2 linked regions of the Homo sapiens genome follow. The protein of the gene in region 1 interacts with the protein of each later gene in a biochemical or structural test. Each region holds a gene or a part of one and is shown on either strand. Other genes may lie near its edges. The genes, in order: MMP2 and PAK4.

Region 1 (3,810 bases):
GCCAGATTCCAGAGTTCTAATGAGCCTCCCATGGAAGGGGGCAGATGGGCTAGGGGCAAAGGGAGTTGGATGAAGCTGATGGCACCAGCACATGCCCCTCAGCTGTGAGCCCCCTTGGGCAGGGCTTTGCAGAGACCAACCTCTGTGTATGCTGCACAAAGCAGGCGCTCAGTAAATTCCTGTTGGAGGAAGGGAAGAAGGAAAGGAGGGAGGGATAGAGAGGAGGGCAGGAAGGAGACAGGGAGGAAAGCACGGAGCTCTTAATAAAAAACAGACTAAAAGGTGGAGATACAGACCAGGAAAGGCAGGGAAGAGAGATTGCAGGGTCAGAGAGGAGGAGAGAGAAGTCTCTGCCAGAGAGCCTGAGAGAAAAGGGATGCAGGTCGGTCAGAGGATCCTGAGCAGGCCTGACATTTAAGTGTCACCAATTCAACTGTTGATGCCCAATGTCTGTTCTGATTTCAGTGCCCAGGCCATACCAGGTGACAAGTATCCTGACTAGCTACACGGACATCTTGGTGTGGATGTCATTCGCACAGATGTCTTAGCACCCCTGTCTTGGGGAAAGGAGGTGGGCACTCGGAGTCTTATGGGTTTTTTTTTTGTCAGACAGCAGGTGCTGGGCCCTGAGGGAGGGAGAGGGAGTGGCACCCACCGGTCTCAGGGCAGAAGCCATACTTCTTGTCGCGGTCGTAGTCCTCAGTGGTGCCGCACCAGCGGTAGCCATCCGTGCGGCCCTCAGTGGTGCAGCTGTCATAGGATGTGCCCTGGAAGCGGAATGGAAACTTGCAGGGCTGTCCTTCAGCGTTGCCGCCCATGGTGAACAGGGCTAAGGGTGGGGGAGAGAGGGAAGGATGTGAATGAGACATGCTTCCATGGGCACAGGGCTGGCTGGCTGCCCACCTGCCGGTTCACACCAGTGAAGTTGATGCATTGTTAAAATATTAAGAAAACATCTCTACTGGTTGGTAAGGAGCTGCTTCTCTGAGCTCCCAGAGAGAACCCCTGCTTCCCTGGTTATCCCAATCCCTCCCGTGGGACCTTGTGGACCACCCAACAACAAAATGATTGACACCTGGCACACAGCAAGGGCTTCTAGAACCCTGCCTCAGCCCCAAGGGCACTGTCCATTCTGCCTGGTCCACACCTGTACCATGCAAATTTCATGTAATAATGATGTATGACATGAATATATCAGTCATGGCAGGCAGGACCACGAGAATCTCTCTCCATTTGATAGGTGGAGAAATCAAGGCTAGGACAAAGATGGTTCTCAAACTGCTCATGGTCACAGAAATGAAAGAAGTGAATGAAGGTTGTAACTAAAAACTACAAAACACACTAATCTCAATCTCTCTTGCTTAGTCTGTCACTCTCATATATGTGTGTGTGCGTGCACACGCATACACAGAAAGCTTGCTTTACCTCCTGTCAACCCCAGGCCCCTTCCTGGATGGCCTTGTTGCAGTCTCTGTAGGAAGGAGAGAAAGAATGAAGAGGAGGAGGGAGGGAGAGGGAGGTGGTGCCTTCAGGTCCCTTTTACTAAACACTCTGGGCTCCTACTTTGACATCTTCAAGACAGGGGCCATAAATGGAGAGTTGGGGGAGGGAGTGGGGTTCAGAGCCTGGCCTGTCTGTCTTGGATTCTCCCCATCCTCCCCTCATCCACCCAAAGCTAAAAAATGGTGTCTCTGGAATTGCCAACCAGCAAAACCACAAGTCCATAACAAGGACCATCTGTGCACAACGGCGCCAGAGGTGACCTCACCAGCCCCCGTTAACTCCACCATGGCCGGAATGGAGCCCAGTCCCTGGCCTCCCACCACAGAACTCGAGGCCCTGTATCCTCACCACTCCCCTCTCTACCAAAAGACCTTGTCCTGCAATGCCAGAAACAATGGCACCTAGAGAAAAGGCAAGACTGAGTCCAGATACCTTAGTGGCCTCAGAGTTGAGAAAGGCAAAGCGTTAACTTCGACCAATGCCAGCCCCCTGCCTCTGACCTCTCATTTCTACCACCCAGGAAGCCCCTGTCTCCTCCCAAATTCCCCTGACAAGGATGGCAAGAATCAGACACTGACTCAGCCATCAGCAGGGGCTGAGTAACAACAATCTCTGCCTCGAGACCCAGACACGTGCGTGTTGTGCGTACTTGCATCTGGCTAAGCACAAAGTAAATGGCTAATGTCCAATGCAGGGAATAACCCTTCCCAAATTTATGAAATACAGCTGTTTCCACATCTAACTATCACCAAAGCTTTCTGTTCCTATCAGAGGGGTGACACAGGGAAGGGTTAACGCCACATGTAATCCCTACCGGGAAACGCAAGATACAAAAAATATTTTTATTTCAAAATGTCTGACTTATTAATGGTGAATGGCTTAAACTCTTACTTAATATAAAGTTTAGCTCTGGTAGTAAAAGCATAAACAGGAAGGGAATTAACTAGCTCTTTGTTTCTTTCATTCTGTCAAGATGGTTGGTGCTTAGTTTTCAGTTACAGTGGGGTTAGGGAGATTCACAGACATAAAATTACAGACAAAAAGACAGTCTTTAGTCTATGTAGACTATAGAGTCTTTGTGACATGGGAAAGAAGATAGTGTTAAAAATTTTTAGACTTTTTTCCATTTTCGCCAGGTTTTCTGGGCTTTCAATCTGCAGAATTATCAAATATGATGACTTCATAGAGTATGAAGTTACATTGTCTTTTTGTGATTTATGACTATTAAGTGTGTCAAGGATATTTTTAAAAAGGATTGAGTGTGTATGTCAATATCTGTACCCCATTTTAAAAGATTTCCCCCATGTGGCTTCAAAATCTCTGAAATGTTGCATCTCAGGCACTGACAAGCACACAAACACAAATACTGAGTCAAGCCTAAAGTCTTTATCAAGACACAGAGATGCAGACACAAGCTAGACAGGAGGCAGAAAAAGACAGTGCCCAAGAGAGGCAGATAGTATAGCCCCCGTGCCCAGACACACACACACACACACACACACACACACACACACACACACAGGCACACACACACACACACACACACGCATTAGCAGAGGCAGCATCAGGACCAAGGCAGGAGCAATAGCTGAAATTCCTCAGTTGGAGTACGCAAACCAGGTTGAGTCCAGCCCTGGTCTGAGTCCTGCCTCCCTATCACACTGCTAGGTTTCCAGCTACCAGCAAGCCTTTCCTCATGCCCTTGAAGTATCAATCTTGACTGAAGTGTAAAGACTGGTTCTAGAGAGAACCACTGGGCATTGTAATAGTTCTAAGTTCACTCCAATATATATTAGAAATAAATAATTAGCAAATCAAATCTGTGACTTCCTAAATGATTGCTAATGGTGAAACTTAAAAAAAATCAACTTGATTTAATTAGAGTACTACGTTCATCATGGTACTGGTGGGAGAGAAACAGCAATGGCTCAGATCAGGATGGGGGGGAACTGAGTGAAGGACGTTGGAGGGATGCTCATTAACTGGCAGTGGCAGCCAGTCCTGGAGAGTGTGGAGGGAAGAGCACACTGGGGAGCCCGGGAAGCTGGAGGCTTGGGGTGGAAAGTCTTGGGGACTAGAGTGGATGCTCACCTTCATGGGGACAGAAGCCGTACTTGCCATCCTTCTCAAAGTTGTAGGTGGTGGAGCACCAGAGGAAGCCATCGCTGCGGCCGGTATCAGTGCAGCTGTTGTACTCCTTGCCATTGAACAAGAAGGGGAACTTGCAGTACTCCCCATCGGCGTTCCCATACTTCACACGGACCACTAAAGAGTGACATGGAAGGGGGAGGTTGGACTTCTCCAGGC
Region 2 (3,810 bases), on another chromosome or scaffold:
GTGCTACGGGGCACTGCCAGGGTCTCTAAGGAGGGACGGGGAGGGGGTGGGCCTGAACGTCAGAAACATACTCTTGGTGGTTGTGTGGGCTGTGCCGAGGGACACCCAGGAGTGGAGGCCAGGGCGGGGCACAGGGAACCCAGGAGGGGCAGGTCTGGAGGACACTGTACCCTGGAGCCCAGGCGGGCCTCAGTGGGTGCGAGGGGCCTGGAAGACACTGGGTCGGGGGTCAGTGGCCCGAGGAACCCTGGGTCTGGGGCTCAGGGACAGAGATGTGGGTGAGGGTGCTGTGAGGACAGAGGCAGGGACCCAGCTGGGGCGGACGAGACGGCCTGGGGAGGGAGAAGAGTGAGGGGAGGAGGGGAGCCTGGCCCAGCACGGAGGAGTGCAGGGAGAGGAGGGAGGAGGGGAGGGAGGGTGGGAGGGAGGGGTGGGAGGACCAGCAGGGCGGCAGGGCAGCAGCGCCCGCACCTCGTTGAAGAGCAGCTCGCGCCTCTGCTGCTTGCGCAGGTCCATCTTCTTGACGGCCACCAGCTTGCCCGAGCTGCGCACGGTGGCGATGCACACGATGCCCGTGGAGCCCTCGCCAATCTTGATGAAGTTGTCCAGGTAGGAGCGGGGGTCGCCTGGGTCCACCACCAGCTGCAGGGCAGCCCGGAACTGCTCATGGGATACTCGCTGTGGCTCCCGCTGTGGTGAGCGGGGGCCAGGGGGCCCAGGAACAGCAGGGGCGGCGGGGGTGCAGGCTGGAGGGGCCAGCTGGGGCTCTGAGGCGTGGGGTCCCAGCACTCCAGGGCTGGGGGCACCTCGGGCTCGGGTGGGAGGCCGGGAGGAGGAGGAGGAGGACTGGGGGATGGCCAGGCCCCCCGCTGATGGCCCGTTAGGGGCCACGTCATGAGGCTCCCCCTGAAACAGAAGAGAGGTAGCTGTCAGTGATGGGTGCCAGGGAGCAGCTCTGCTCCCTAAGCAGGAGAGAGACCCAGCGATGGGACAGACACATGGGTGGTCAGGATGAGATGCACGGTGGTGGGGCGGGGCTGGAAGGTGGGGACAGAGGAGCAACGGGCAGGGGACAGTGGGGGCCCTGGGGCGGGGGATGGGTTACCTGGGCACCCCGGGATGGGTGGTCCGTGTCAGCCCTCGGGTAGGTGTTAAAGGGCCGGCCAGCTGCCAGTTTCGCCCCACTGGCCAGACCAGCAGGCTGGGGGGTGCCGACATCAGGCCCGGAGAGGGGGCGTTTGTCCCGGGAGGACTCCTGGGGACCCCCTGAGCCCTCCCTGGAAGACTTGGGCCTCTTCTCTGGCCCCGCCCGTCGCCTGTCACCACTGCCGCCACCCGCCTCGCTGTGACCGGCGAACCGGCCTCGGCTGCCTGCCTTCCCTGGGCCCCCTCTGGCCGTGGTGGCCGGCTCCTCTGGCATCCCATTTTCCTGGCGGGCACGGGCGGGCGGCGGCGGGCTGTCTCTCCGCAGGGAGTTGGAGCGTGTCACCGACATGTTCTCAAACTCGTCCAGCAGCAGCGTGAGGGCCCCATCTTTGGCACCTTTGCTGCCCCGCACGATGGTCTGGGGTCCCAGGCAATGGTGGGTGGGGGCCCAGCAAGGAGTGGGGCACACAGGACGTGCATCCGACACGCAGGGACAGGACAGCACGACACACACAGAGACAAGACAGAGACGCAATGAAGAGATGCCATGGAGTGACAATGGCATGGGCAGTGCAGCCCCTCCCCTCCCTGGGGACACAGCTGCAGGGGCCAGAGGAGTGATCGCCATGGCCAGGCTGCTGCCCCCTGGGCTCGGTGGGACCCTGGAGAGGCCCCCCTTGTTTTTCTCCTGTTCCTCACACTGGTGGAATAGTCCTGCCCTGAGGGGTTTGGGGGAGGAAGGGCAGAAATTGACCCACCCCATAATCAGCCCCGAGGGCTGCAAATGACAGGGCGCTGGGGCCAGGGCCTGGCCTGGCACTTCCTCCCATGTGGGCGCCAGTGTTCCTTAGCCCCAAAACCACACTCTCTGCTCCCATGAACAACAAGGAGTGGGGGACAGGGAGAGTCAGAAAGGCCTGGTCCCAAAGTAGAGGGCAAGGGGGTCCCAGGAGCCGGGTGGCAAATGCAAATGCAGATGGGGACCAGGCAGAGCATCCAGTGCATCCCGAGTCACCCGGTCCCCACCCTCTGTGGTCTGAGTCGTGTCCTGCAGGCCCCCTCTGCCCCCGTTCCATTTCCAGACACACGGGTGTCTCCCCCACCCCCGCCCCCCTGCGCCCAGGGCCTCTCCGCTGGCGGCTCCCTCTGCCTGGAACATCAGCTCTCAGGGTCCCTGTGGCTCCCTCCCTCCACTCCTTCAGGTCTTTGCTCAAAACTCAGCTTCTCAGTGAGGCTTCTGCTGGCCTCCCATCATCTAAAATGCCAGCCCCTGCCCTCCCCGGCCCCTGCCCTGCCTGCATTCTACCTAGAGCACCTAACAGCAGCTGATACAGAGCACACAGGCATCTGTCTGCTCCCGGCTCTGCCTAGTGCATGCTCTGGGCAGGGATTGTTTTTTCCTGTCTGCTTCGGGTCCTGCTCCATCTCAGCACCTAGACCAGCATCTGGCGCACAGCAGGGGCTCAGTGAACTTTTGCTAAACCACGTAGTGAGTGAGGTGTCTGTGCAAAGGCCACAGTGAGCTGAGAACGTGGGCCCTGCTGACAAGGACCCTGCCCGGGGCTGCCAGATGTCCTCCAGCCGGAGGCCTGCCTCTAATGTGTGGAAAACACTGATCCCACGAAACCCGGACCCTGCCTGGGGCTGCCAGGCATCCTCCAGCCAGAGGCCTGCCTGTAACGTGTAGAAAACACTGATCCCACAAAATCCGTGGTCTGCCGCTGCCCTGTCTCTCCTGGCCGTGGCTGTCTGCCTGAAGCCGGGCCTTGCCCAGGGGCCCCAGGAAGTCAAGGTGGACACAAGGCCAGACTTTGCTGTTAGAACAGGGCGTTGAGGCAAGAAGCAGTGGCTCACGCCTATAATCCCAGCACCTCGGGAGGCTGAGGATCACCTGAGGTCAGGAGTTTGAGACCAGCCTGGCCAAAATGGCGAAAACCCGTCTCTACTAAAAATACAAAAATTAGATGGGCATAGTGGTGGGCGCCTGTAATCCCAGCTACGCGGGAGGCTGAGGCAGGAAAATCGCTTGAACCCAGGAGGCGAAGGTTGCATGAGCCGAGGTGGCGCCACTGCACTCCAGCCAGGGAGACAGAGCAGGAATGTCTCTCAAAAAAAAAAAAAAAAAAACCAACAGGGAGTCGAGAAGGTCCTGGGAGGCCTGAGGCCCGGTCAAGGGCAGCAAACACAAGTGCCTATGGGGCCCCAGGACAGTGCTGGCCACAAGGCCCCATGTGTGAATTCAAGTGCCCTGCCTCCTGCTGGGACAGTCACAGGCAGGCCTCACATCTGGCAAGCCAGGCAGGGGCTGGGTTTTTGGAGACACCTTGGTGGGGGCAAAGCCTACATGCAAGTGGCCACAGAGCCAGGCAGGGCGTGGAGCTGAGGTGGGTCGGGTGCGGCCTGTGGCCCAGAAGAGCCAGTGCCCTGCCCGTGGAGGCAGCTGCCACTCGCCTCCAGCTGGTCTGTCACCAGATGCCAGAAACGGCTTTGGAAGTGAAGTCTGTCACTTTCTCAGTGGAGGCAAAGAAGTCAAAGCATTCAAAAGCACCCTGCAAGGACCACACGGACCCCTCAGTGGGCTACCACATTGAGGCTGCACTTGTGTCTATGGCCAACTTGTGGGCCTTGGGGCTTCTCCCCGCCAGGCTGGGCTGGGCACCGGGA

The links.
Region 2: the proteins of MMP2 (region 1) and PAK4 form a complex in vitro, tested with the Homo sapiens proteins (one study listed by BioGRID).

What each region holds. Positions count from the first base shown.
Region 1 is NC_000016.10:55,485,562-55,489,371, reverse strand, and holds part of MMP2 (72 kDa type IV collagenase isoform 1 preproprotein), read right to left. Parts: intron 3,769-3,810; coding exon 3,595-3,768; intron 830-3,594; coding exon 656-829; intron 1-655.
Region 2 is NC_000019.10:39,170,672-39,174,481, reverse strand, and holds part of PAK4 (serine/threonine-protein kinase PAK 4), read right to left. Parts: intron 1,565-3,810; coding exon 1,106-1,564; intron 907-1,105; coding exon 472-906; intron 1-471. UniProt on the Homo sapiens protein: Serine/threonine-protein kinase that plays a role in a variety of different signaling pathways including cytoskeleton regulation, cell adhesion turnover, cell migration, growth, proliferation or cell survival.